Linked DNA regions of Homo sapiens. The protein of the gene in region 2 interacts with the protein of the main gene of each other region in a pairwise test. Each region holds a gene or a part of one and is shown on either strand. Other genes may lie near its edges.

Region 1 (3,911 bases), on a different chromosome or scaffold from region 2:
TGCCGTAACCACAGCTCAGAAATATACACACCCCTCAATGGAACTGGCTTCTTGCCTTCTGTTGTGAGCATACATCACAAGTCAAAATGAATTAAATACAAATCCAGTTTGCAATGGTCCGTCACTAAGCTGCCTCCCAGGAGCGAGCCGGCAGCATGTGGGTTGGAAGGGGGCCCACAGCGTTCCCTGCGCTGTCTTGAATTGGACTGCAGTCTGTCTGACAAACCAGCCCCACAAGGGAGTCCACAGCCTGGTGGCTCTTTGACTGGGATGGGGTAGGGGGTTGCCTTGAGCAACTGTGGAAGCCTAGCCAGGGGCCCAGAAGCACAGGCCTCCTCAATCCAGGCCTCTACAGTCAATCAAATGTCAAGGAATCGTCACCAGAAGAAACTTTTCATAGGTAAATAGAAGCAGGGCCGAGAGCTGACAGTGGGGATTTTCCAAAGAAATGGAAACAAACGTACACAGGCCACTCACCAGAGACTATAGCCAGCAAGAAACAGGAAACGTATCAGGTTAATATTTTAATCTGTACATCACATTTTTTTTGCAAACCATTACATTTTTAAATTAACTTTTTCTTGCAAAATATTCATTTCATTTTTTCCAAGAAAATCTTATAAAGGCAAAAATAAAATTTTATTTTGGCAAATGTCATGAAGTCGATACTGGCAGCATATGGAGTTAGTTAAAAATAGACAACAACTGCTAGATATATTCAAAATTCTATTTTTTTTTCTGAGCATAGTCAAAGAGAAATTTTCATTTAAAGTGTGGCTCCACCCAATGGAGGTTTTCGTTGTTGTTGTTTTTTCCATTTAAACGTCATTGTTTATATGCAGAATAATATAAGAAAACAACTTAAATAAAGGGCCACAAACACTGCACCTGGCTTGGTAGCCCCCCTCCTCATGTGGGGCTGGAAGTCAAATCAAAGTCCTGCCATTATGGCCCTGCTGGCGGCAGGCCATGAGGGATGGTGGGGGCACACTGCTGCCCTCCTGCCACCAGACCTGAGTCCCAGGGAAGCCAATCCGGGGTTCTCCAAGGGCAGGCAGCAAAGGTTCCCATCATGGCCTGGTTAGAGGGAAGGGATTTCTAGGTAGATGTCACCCAGTGTGGAGTTTATTGCTACGATACAATGAAAGTTGCTTCCTCTCACCTTTTCTGTATTTCAATGTGTACTGTTAAAAATGAAAGCAGGCTGGGCGTGGTGGCTCACGGCTGTAATCCCAACACTTTGGGATGCTGAAGCGGATGAATCACCTGAGGTCAGGAGTTCGAGACCAACCTCACCAACATGAAGAAACCCCCGTCTCTACTAAAAATACAAAATTAGCCGGGCGTGGTGGCACATGCCTGTAATCCTAGCTACTTGGGAGGCTGAGGCAGGAGAATCACTTGAACCCAGGAGGCAGAGGTTGCAGTGAACCGAGATCGTGCCATTGCACTCCAGCCTGGGCAACAAGAGTGAAACTCCATCTCAAAAAAAAAAAAAGATAGCAAACTGCTTTTTTCTTTCTGACAAGAGCCTTTTGCTGGAGGAAGCCTGGGGGCAGGTTGTGGGCCCCAGTCCTCTTGAACACACTGTTGCCCCTAAGCCAAACCCAAGGGGCAAGGCACAGACTTGGGCTCCACGTGTGATCCTCGTGGAGTTTCACACAGAGCTGGTCATCAGGTCAGGGACAGCTGATCTCTGCAGCCAAGGGCCCCTCTTCTCCCAGACAGCACGCCAACCAGCCTCTTGCTGGAGTCTACTGGGAACACCTCTTTAAATCTCACTTTCTCCTGAGGTCATTGGAAGTTGGACTAGCCTCGGCTTGCCCCGCCCTTCCTGCCCCCACAACACCTGTCACCCAGAAGTACCTGAATCTGTACGTGCAGCTGCAAAGTCCTGCATCCTCAACCTTCCTGCCACTCAGCCCTTGAGGGGAACATTAGAAAATAGATTCCGATTCTAAAATACAGTGTATTTTACAGTGTATATCAAAAGTGCCTTTGCCATTCATATGTAGAGAGGAGTCTGAGCTAAACTAGTGGGTGCATATTAGGGCCTGGCCTGTGGTGAACACCCGCAGTCGGTAAGCTGCTCCTTCCTCCGGCCGGATTCCCTGCTCAGCTGGAAGGGGTTTCCTTGGGGGCAGAAAGGTCATCTCCTTGGAGGAAGCTGGTTCCACTGGGCCCCTGGCTCCAGGCTTCTTTGCATGCTGGGTCACGGGTCAGTCACTGCCTGGGCTGGCAAAAAGCACAGGAGACAGTGAGAGGCTGGCATCCAGGGAGCAGGCACGTCTGCACACACATGATGGAATGGCAGATAGGCGGACAGGCAGAGCAGCAGAGCAGGGGGCTCTGGCAATGCGGCCGCTGCTGGGGGACCCTCAGCTTCCAGGACACATGGGGCTCTTGCCCCACCCTCCCTGCACCCCTATTCCACTGCTAGACACATGCTGGCCCCTAAATTGGGTCCCCATCCCGACAGGGCAAAGACTCTAATAAAGGTGCAGTCTGGCCCTGCCCTTCATTCTTTCAATGTGGGTAGCGCTCTTGGCCTCTGTGGGCCTTGTTTTTCTAACCTAAAAAACATGGTGGTCATACCCACTTCTTAACAAGGATGCTTTGAGAGTAAGAAGAAATGCAGTACTCCAAAGAGTATAATAGGCCAATCTTACAGCCATGGGGGCACCAAAACCCAGGAGGAACAGAACCTCTCTCCTGCCTCTCTGTGACTGAGCGCTGTTACTGTGCTCAGATCTCTAGGAGAAAGCCACACCCTCAAATGTGGCCTTCACAATGGGCGTGGCTAGAGCACTTCCCTATGGCTCCTCAACCACGGGGCCTCTACTCCACACCTCCTCAGAGCCTGGCCCAAGGAGGCTGACCTCTTCCTCTCATGCTCAGGCTGGCGGGGACCTGCTGACTCTGCTGTGAGGCACGGGGAGCACCCAGGATAGACACCTGCCAAAAAATCATGCTTCGCTCCCTGCAGCACAAATACTCTCTCCCTCCTTTCACTTCTTTCTCCAAACACCTAGAGCTGCTCGGGGCGGCCCAGATGAACCCATGAGTGGTGATGGGGAACAAAGGCTCTGAACTCACATCAAAGGGGTTCAAACCCCAGCACTTAACAAGCTGCGATTCCTTGCGCATATCCCTCAAGGCCTCTGAGCTTTTGTTTTTTCATCTCTAAAACGGGGAGGGGGGGGGGAATATCTTCATAGGGTTGTTGTGTGGATCGAAAGAGATACTTAGCACAATGCCTGGCACACAGCAGGCACTCAACAATGTTAACCACAAGTATACGTAAAGGAAGGAGAGGGGAAAGCCCTGCAAAATGATAGTGGGATGGGATGTCAGGGTAAGGACTGCCCAGACTGGTAGTCTGACCTTCCCCTGTCCAGGTGAACCGCTGGGCTCAAAAGCAACAGGCCCAGGCCAAGAACTCACTTGAGACTGGACCAGATGCCAGCCTCCTGTTTCAGGGCTCCCTCCTCATCCCACACTGCCTCTCATCACTAGATGCCCACATGGGGAGAACTTGGTAGGGTTGGTGCCAGAGCTTTCTGCCTGGCTGAGGGCCAATTTCACATTGCCCTGGGCTTCCCTTTCTCTCCCTCTTAAAGTGCCCAGTGACCAAAAGGGCAGTCCCAGTCTCTGCGCTGACACCAATTCTTTGTGACCTGGAGTGAGCCCCAGCCCCTCACTGGGCCTCAGTTTCCTCATCTGTAGAACTGGACTTTTCCCAATCTTACAGTTCTTCAATTTCTTTGGCCAAAGCCCTGAAAGGCCAAGATCTAACTCTTCCTTTCCAGCCCCCCAAGGCTGGCAGTGTGGTCTGCACTGGTTCTCGGGCATCAGGGTGCCCTACTGAGGAGAGCAGGGGATGGGGGCACAGTTCCGGTTCTAGAGATTTC
Region 2 (7,516 bases):
TCCTGCAAGAAGGGGGCATGGCCTCAGATGCATGTAGTACAAACAAGTAAATTAGAGGATCCTCATTACTCCTGCAAAATGAGTCTCTTGGATCACGGTGACATAAACTCTTGGCCATGTTGTTCTGCACACTCTTGCTCCCCTAGAACATATGTAGAATGCAGCGTGGAGCCAACTCTTACCTTCACAATGGAATTTTCTTTAAATAATATTGCACATACTGCTTCATCAATGTCTTCTCTAGCTAATACCTAAAATTACAGAATTGAATATTAAGATGTGAATCCTGAAGAAACAAACTACAATGACAAAACTCAGTGTACTTTACCAATAGTTTTAGTGTAAATCTTGAGGCTTATTTGGTAACATAAAAATATGGAAAATTTCTAAACCCATTCTCTGTGAACTTGTCAGCCAGGCTCGAGTGATTAATTCCAAGTCAATCTTATTTCATCCAATAAATCCCTACTCATTTTTCAGCACCCCCCCACCCAGACTATTTAAAAAAAATCCCTGATAGCATATTATTAAATTACGTTTTAAAGCACTAAAAAGCTTACTAAAGGAATCCTCTTTTCAGGCATTCAGTAGGTGTTTTTTGTTTGCTTGCTTTTTGAGACAAAGTCTGGCTGTCACCCAGGCTGCAGGGCAGTGGTATAATCCTGGCTCACTGTAACCTCCGCCCTCCAGGTTCAAGTGATTCTCCTGCCTCAGCCTCCCAAGTAGCTGGGATTACAGGCACATGACACCACAGCTGGCTAATTTCTGTGTTTTTAGTAGAGACAGAGTTTCACCATGTTGGCCAGGCTGCTCTCGAACTCCTGACCTCAAGTGATCCACCCACCTTGGCCTCCCAAAGTGCTGAGATTATAGGCGTGAGCCACCCCACCCAGCTAGTAGGTGTGTCTTAAAGGGCCCTTGAAGTTTCCCGCCTTTTGCTAGATCTCTTCATAAGTCAAAAACCACAGAAAGTTCCCTTTAGTTCAACTGGTCCAGAATCTCAGAGCTAATTAGTGAGAGCTCATGGCCTCCAAACAACATCATCCACATCTAGGGACTTGCTATTTCCATTATGAGTTTGGGTAAAGCTGATGCATTTTAATCCCCACTTTAGGGCTTTTTCAGTTGGATCACTATGCACTAATCTCTAGCTTTTATTCTTATAGGACTAAGTGTGAACAAATGAAAAGGCAATGAAAATCCAGTATCTGGAAGAGATAAATTGTTACATTAAAAATTATTGCTGATGAAAAATGATACAGGTTCTTAGAACTGTTATTCAATTTCTGATTCTTCTTTCTATTCTGCCACACTGAATGCATCACAACAAACTAAACCCCAAACTCAAATACCAAATCTGTGAATAAGAGAAATCTCAAAAAAGGAAAGTTGTTCTTTTTACCCACATATTTAATAGCTTCACATGAGATCTAAAATGATATTCAAACAGCTGCCCAGGTCTTCCTAAAATAAAGCTCTCTTTGTAATAGGAACAGGATCTTGCTTTAAAGCCTTCTCAGACTTATTTTAAGAAGACAGGCCAGGCAGGGTGGCTCACGCCTGTAATCCTAGTGCTCTGAAGGCCCAGGCAGGAGAATTACTTGAGCCCAGGAGTCTGAGGTTACAGAGAGCTATGATTGGGCCACTGCACCCCAGCCTGGGCTACAGAGCAAGAACCTGTCTCTAAAATATTTTTTTTAATTAAAATGAAGATGGCAACTGAAAAAGTATGTAAAACAATTAAACATGTATCCTGACACTACAATAAAAATTTAGAATCTATTTATTTATTTGGAGAAGCAGAACATATTGACAAGCATCTTGGGAAGTCACCTTCTTAAAGAACATCCTAGTAAGATTGTTAACAAATGTTATGTACATTCTTGAGTCAGATTCTCAAATAATCTTTGTTTAAAGAAATTAAACAGTTTTTGTCTTTGATGGCTCTTCTTTGTGATTTTGCCAGGAAATATAAGGAAAAGGTCATGATTTGCAGCAGCACTTTTCGAAATCCACAGCTTTCTGTGCACACACATAGAAAAATTAAGCATCTCACTGCTCCGACCGCCACTAGGGCAAAAGGGGAAAAAGAAAGGAAATTTCCAAGAGTTTTTCACAGCGAGGCAAATCATAGGATGACACAAAATAATGAAACTTTTTGAGAAAATCATTACCAGACGCTGAAGTATGCAGAATTGACTGGCAAGCCCAGACCTGGCTTCTGCCGGGGAGCTGGGGTGGCTGCCTTCACCCGCCCGGCTGCCCGCCCCCGTCGGTGCGCCAGCCCCCAGGCTGGCGACTGGAAACACTCTTGGCCACACTCTCGGCCAAATCTGAGCCCGAACATTCCCCTTCAACGCCTGCTTTAAAGCAGGCACTGTCACAATCCTGAGAACAGAAGCGAAATTAAGATAAACAGTTCCCAAACTCGAGGGGTCCCCCCGCCAAAATGACGTCTCAAAACGCCACGTTATCTCACCTCCATTAAAGAAACGGACTCGGGCTCCGGCCATTCTCTTAACTTTTCTGGCCTGAAATGTTCATCATAACTCGCAGTTTTGGTGGCAGCCATGGACAGGAGAATCCCTGAGGGATGAAAAGGTAAACTGAGGCTGAGGAAGACGGTTACCGTTGAGAGCCAGGCCTTTGGGCTCAGGGAGTGTTCAAATCCCGCTCGGCCCCTTTCTAAAAGCTGAGCCGAGTCACCCAACAAACTGGGATCCTTGGCGCCCTAGGCGCTTCAACAGGCCCGGCTACCCACTCCCGTGTCGTCCTCGGGCCAAAGCGGGCCTTTCCTCCGGGGCGCGCCCCCCTGGCCCTGCCACAGCCCTCCCTGGGCTCCGCGACCCCCAGGCCCGTAGGCCTCCCCGGGCCCCACCTCAGGCCAGCTCCGGGGGAAGTCGCAGGCCCCGCGGCTCCGTCCCGGTAGGGCTCCCCCGAGGCCGCGTCCTGGAGCGGCGACGGAGAAAGGAGCCCGCGGGCCCGAGCGTCGGGGCGCATGCGCCACGCCAGATCCCGGGGTGCTGCCCCGACGCCAGCTGGACGGTGACGCCGAAGTCCCGGGAAAAGGAAGGGCGCCATTTGATTTCACAGCAAACGGGCGGTGACACCGACTTCCCGGGAAAGGGAAAGGCGCCATTTGATTTCACAGAAAACGGAAACGCAGTGATGAAGCCCAGCGCCTGGCCCTCGCCCTCCCTCCACGTCTGTCTCGGGGGCGCCCTCCCCTCGCAGGAGCCAGGGCACGCGGGCCTTCAACCGCCGAGGCCCCCGCCGCCCTTCTGGACTTTTATCGAGGCATGTACACTAATACGAAAGAGAATTTGCCATTTACCTGTAAGATTGAGGGTGACAACGTAAGAGGAATGGTTTTAAGTGACGCGTCCGGCTCCTTACTCCCACTGAAGGGTGAAGGTGCCACAGGTGGACCTGGTTTGGATTCTGATGTGAAGAAACCGACTTCAAAACATTTGGGCCAATCAGGAAAATGCGAAAACTCTGACTACAAATTTAATGATATCTAGAATTATTGTTAATAGTTTAAGGTATGGTACATTATCACAACCAAGATTTGACATAGCTACAGTCAAGATACAGGATATTATCTTGTATCAGGTGTATCAGGACACCACTACAAGGATTACTCTGTTTTCAGCCAATGTTTCTTCAAGTATGTTTTTTAGTCCTGCCTGTTTCTCTCGTCCTTCTGGGATTCTGATGACATGAATATTATTATAGCCCCCACAGCCACTTAAGCCTCTCTTCTTCCCTCCACCCCCAGTCTATTTTCTCATTTTTTAAGATTGGGTAATTTTTATTGTTCTATCTTCCAGCTCACTGATTCTTTCCTCCATCTTCTCTATTCTACTGTTGAGCTTAACTGCTGAGCTTTTTATTTTGGCTATTGTAATTTTCAGTTCTACAATTTTCATCTGGTTCTTCTTTGTATCTCCTGTTTGCTCAGGATTTTTATTTTTTCATTTGCTTCAAGTGTATCCATATTTGCTCATTGAAGCAGTTTTCTCATAGCAACTTTAAAAGTCTGTGAGCTTATTCTAACATCTTTGTCATCTCAGTGCTGGTCTCTATTGAAGTCTGAACATTTTCAGTTTATATTATGAGACTCTGGATCTTATTTAAACTTTCTGTTTTAGCTGGCTTTCTCCAACACCAATCTAACAGGGTTAATGAGGTTACCACCTCATTACTGCCAGATGGAGATAGGAATCCAGGTGCCCCAGTTGGCCTTCATTGACACTTGAGGGGCCAAAGTTCCTCATTACTGCTGTGTAGACCATGATTTAGAGATTCTAGTCAGGCTAACTGAGAGACCATTCAGCAAATTACTTCCTTATATGGTATAATCTTCTCGAGAAAAGGAGCTGAATCTATCTCATCTTTACATCTTTCTCATAACATGGGACCATCTATGACTGACCCAAATAGCAGGCGAACAGAAAATTCCTGTTGAGTAGACGACATACACAGAAAAGTATAATATACTGATGGCTTAAACTACATTAAGTATAAGCAAAAGGTGATACAAAATAGGATTTTTAATTTCTACCTAGCTTCTTCCTTACTTCATTTGAAAATAAAAGTTTCCCTGATTTACTGAATCAACTTATTTCAATCTCATATGATTTAAAAGCTTACCTGAGCATTTGTCTCTTTACTTGATGTTCCCTGGCAATGTCGCCTTTTTTACATGGTGAAAATAACTGTTAAGGATTTGAAAGATTCTCCTTTCAATAGGTAGTGCTTCACTGAGTCTTCACCTAGGCTCTTGCTGCAGGCTCTGTGTCTCTTTCTACATACCACAACTAAGTCAGTTAATCTCATAGTATTAAAATCTTTTGTTACTGTTTCTCCCACTAACTTTAGGGCAGAGAGCCTATGTTGGCTCATCCTTATATCCCCAGAACCTGGCAGAGCACCTGGGAAAAACAGGCACTTAAATACTTACTAAGTGAATGATGAATAAATAAATGAATGAGACATAATCCCAACATCTACACAAAATGAAATTTCAATGTCAACATATGAAAAAAACATTTAAGAGACTGAAGACTTGTCTACCAGGAGAGCATCAAGCCTTTTGAAGCTTTGCAGTCGGCCTCTGGTTGCCATTTTGGCATAGCTAGTATTTTTAGTCATTTATAACTGTAATAGAGAAAAGCATTTCTATCCAAAAAGTCTCTTTAAATCAAAAAGTCTAGGCCAGTCATGGTGGCTCATGCATGTAATCCCAGCACTTTGGGAGGCCGAGGTAGGAGGATCGCTTGAGGCCAGGTGTTCAAGACCAGCCTGGGCAACACAATGGGACCGCGTCTCTACAAAACGTTTAAAAATTAGCTGGGCATGGTGGCAGGCACCTGTAGTCCCAGCTACTCAGGAAGCTGAGGTGGGAGGATCACTTGAGTCCGGGAGGTTGAGGCTGAAGCAAGCCATGCTTGTATCCACTCCAGCTGGGAGACAGAACAAGACCTTGTCCCAGAAAACAAAACAAAAGTCTCAATGTTTGTGAAGTGTACATGTTAACCTTAACCATAAGAACAAATTTGCACCTAGATTTTTATTTTAAAAGTATGATATAGATTTAGGCTACCTGTTATAAAGAAAACTTAAGAAATTTCTAAATTTACTTGAACGAAGGAAAGGCTATGGAGAAGGCAGTAATGACTGATTCATGGAACAGAACTGATTTACCGAGACTTTTCTCCTTCTATAAAAAGTCAAGGTGAAGTAACAATATCCCTTTAATGCTGATGTGATTTCTAGAAGTCTGTTTTGACTGATGAAGTAATATAAAAGGGAAAAAATGCCAAGAACTAGAGTATTATAAAATCCTTCAGGGTCTCCCCATAAATTCCAAACGCTTTAGCATGACCTGTAAGATTCCTGCCTGTCTTTTTGGGCTCAGCTTTCTTCAGTGATTCCTGGCCTCCTTGCTCCACATGGTGGATTAGAGATGCCTGCGTGGTCCCATCTCTGGCAAATCCCTGACTCCACTCACAGAGGTAGACTTTTTTTTTTTTTTTTTGAGATGGCGTCTCTTGCTCTATTGCCCAGGCTGGAGTGCAGTGGCGCAATCTTGGCTTACTGCAGCCTCCCCGTCCTGGGTTCAAGCGATTCTCCCGCCTCAGCTTTTCTGAGTAGCTAGGCTTGCAGGTGCCCCCCTACCATGCCCAGCTAATTTTTGTATTTTTAGTAGAGATGGGCTTTTGCCATTTTGGTCAGGCTGGTCTCAAACTCCTAACCTCAGGTGATCCACCCTCCTCGGCCTCCCAAAGTGCTGGGATTACAGGCGTGAGCCACTTCACCTGGCCAGAGGTGGACTCGATGGCAGCACCTCCCTGTTCTTCTCTGTGGCTAATTGGTCAAGGAGTGTACACCTGACCCAAGTCTAGGATCAGATTCTCCTGTCTTTCTTCTAGGATTATAGACGTCTAACCAAAACAGAGACTTGGAAAGGTGTTGTGAGTCACGTTCATGACAACAGCCTAGAAGGGTCTGAGATGCCTGCTGCTCAGGGGCCAGTGCTGTCAAGGTTCCTGCCATTCCTGTGGAATTCAGTTTTTTCTCAGGGTTCTGTAAGATGCTTTGGCACTCTTTCAATGAAATTTTTTTTTTTAATCCCAACCACTAGACCACCAGGGACCATTTGTGCTTATGTTAGCTCTGGTTAGCTTGTTACTTGCAATACAAATGATCTCAAATAATACAGAAATAGTACAAGGCTTCAGAGGAAATGTGAGATATTTGGAATTGGTATTCGTGTCAAAGTGCAGGGAAAGGAAAGGCATCTTCTCTTCACCATGTGGAATGAGCAACTATATTTGTGATACGACATCTGGGATTTGCTTCAAAGTCATCCAGTTAGGGTTGAGAAGTAGGTATGCATATACACAAAACAAGACTGGACATGAGGTAATCAGTATTGAAGCTGGATGTCAGAAACATAAGGATTCATTATACAATTATAATTATTTTTTCTGTAATTCTCTGAAATTGTGCATAGTATAAAGTTTTAAAAATCTAGTTTTCAGCCAGGTGCAGTGGCTCATGCTTGTAATCCCAGCACTTTGGGAGGCTGAGGCGGGTGGATCGCTTGAGCCCAGGAGTTCAAGATCAGCCTGGGCAACATGGTGAGACCTCATCTCTACAAAAAATACAAAAAATTAGCCAGGCATGATGGCGTACACCTGTAGTCGTAGCTACTCGGGAGGCTGAAAGGCGGAGAATTGCTTGAACCTGGGAGGTCCAGCCTGCAGTGAGCCATGATCATGCCACTGCACTCCAGCCTGGGCAACAGAACGAGACCCTGTTTCAAAAAAAAAAAAAAAGAAAGAAAGAAAGAAAATCTAGTTTCACTTAGAACCATATATTGATTAGGGGTGAGATGTTGGGAGACTAGATAACTGTCAGGGTAGAATAATTTAAAGAGGATGAGGAATATGGAATGAGAGAAAAATGGATAATTTAAAGCAAGATAATATAAAGCTCAGATGCCAGA

Evidence for each region.
Region 1: the proteins of FAM228A (region 2) and PLEKHA7 interact in binary tests that used the Homo sapiens proteins (3 or more experiments, as listed by UniProt).

Annotation. Positions count from the first base shown.
Region 1 is NC_000011.10:16,776,786-16,780,696, forward strand, and holds the end of PLEKHA7 (pleckstrin homology domain-containing family A member 7), read right to left. Parts: intron 2,236-3,911; coding exon 2,213-2,235; 3' UTR 512-2,212; downstream 1-511. UniProt on the Homo sapiens protein: Required for zonula adherens biogenesis and maintenance. Acts via its interaction with CAMSAP3, which anchors microtubules at their minus-ends to zonula adherens, leading to the recruitment of KIFC3 kinesin to the junctional site.
Region 2 is NC_000002.12:24,170,537-24,178,052, reverse strand, and holds the start of FAM228A (protein FAM228A), read right to left. Parts: upstream 3,001-7,516; 5' UTR 2,879-3,000; intron 2,587-2,878; 5' UTR 2,573-2,586; coding exon 2,480-2,572; intron 252-2,479; coding exon 183-251; intron 1-182.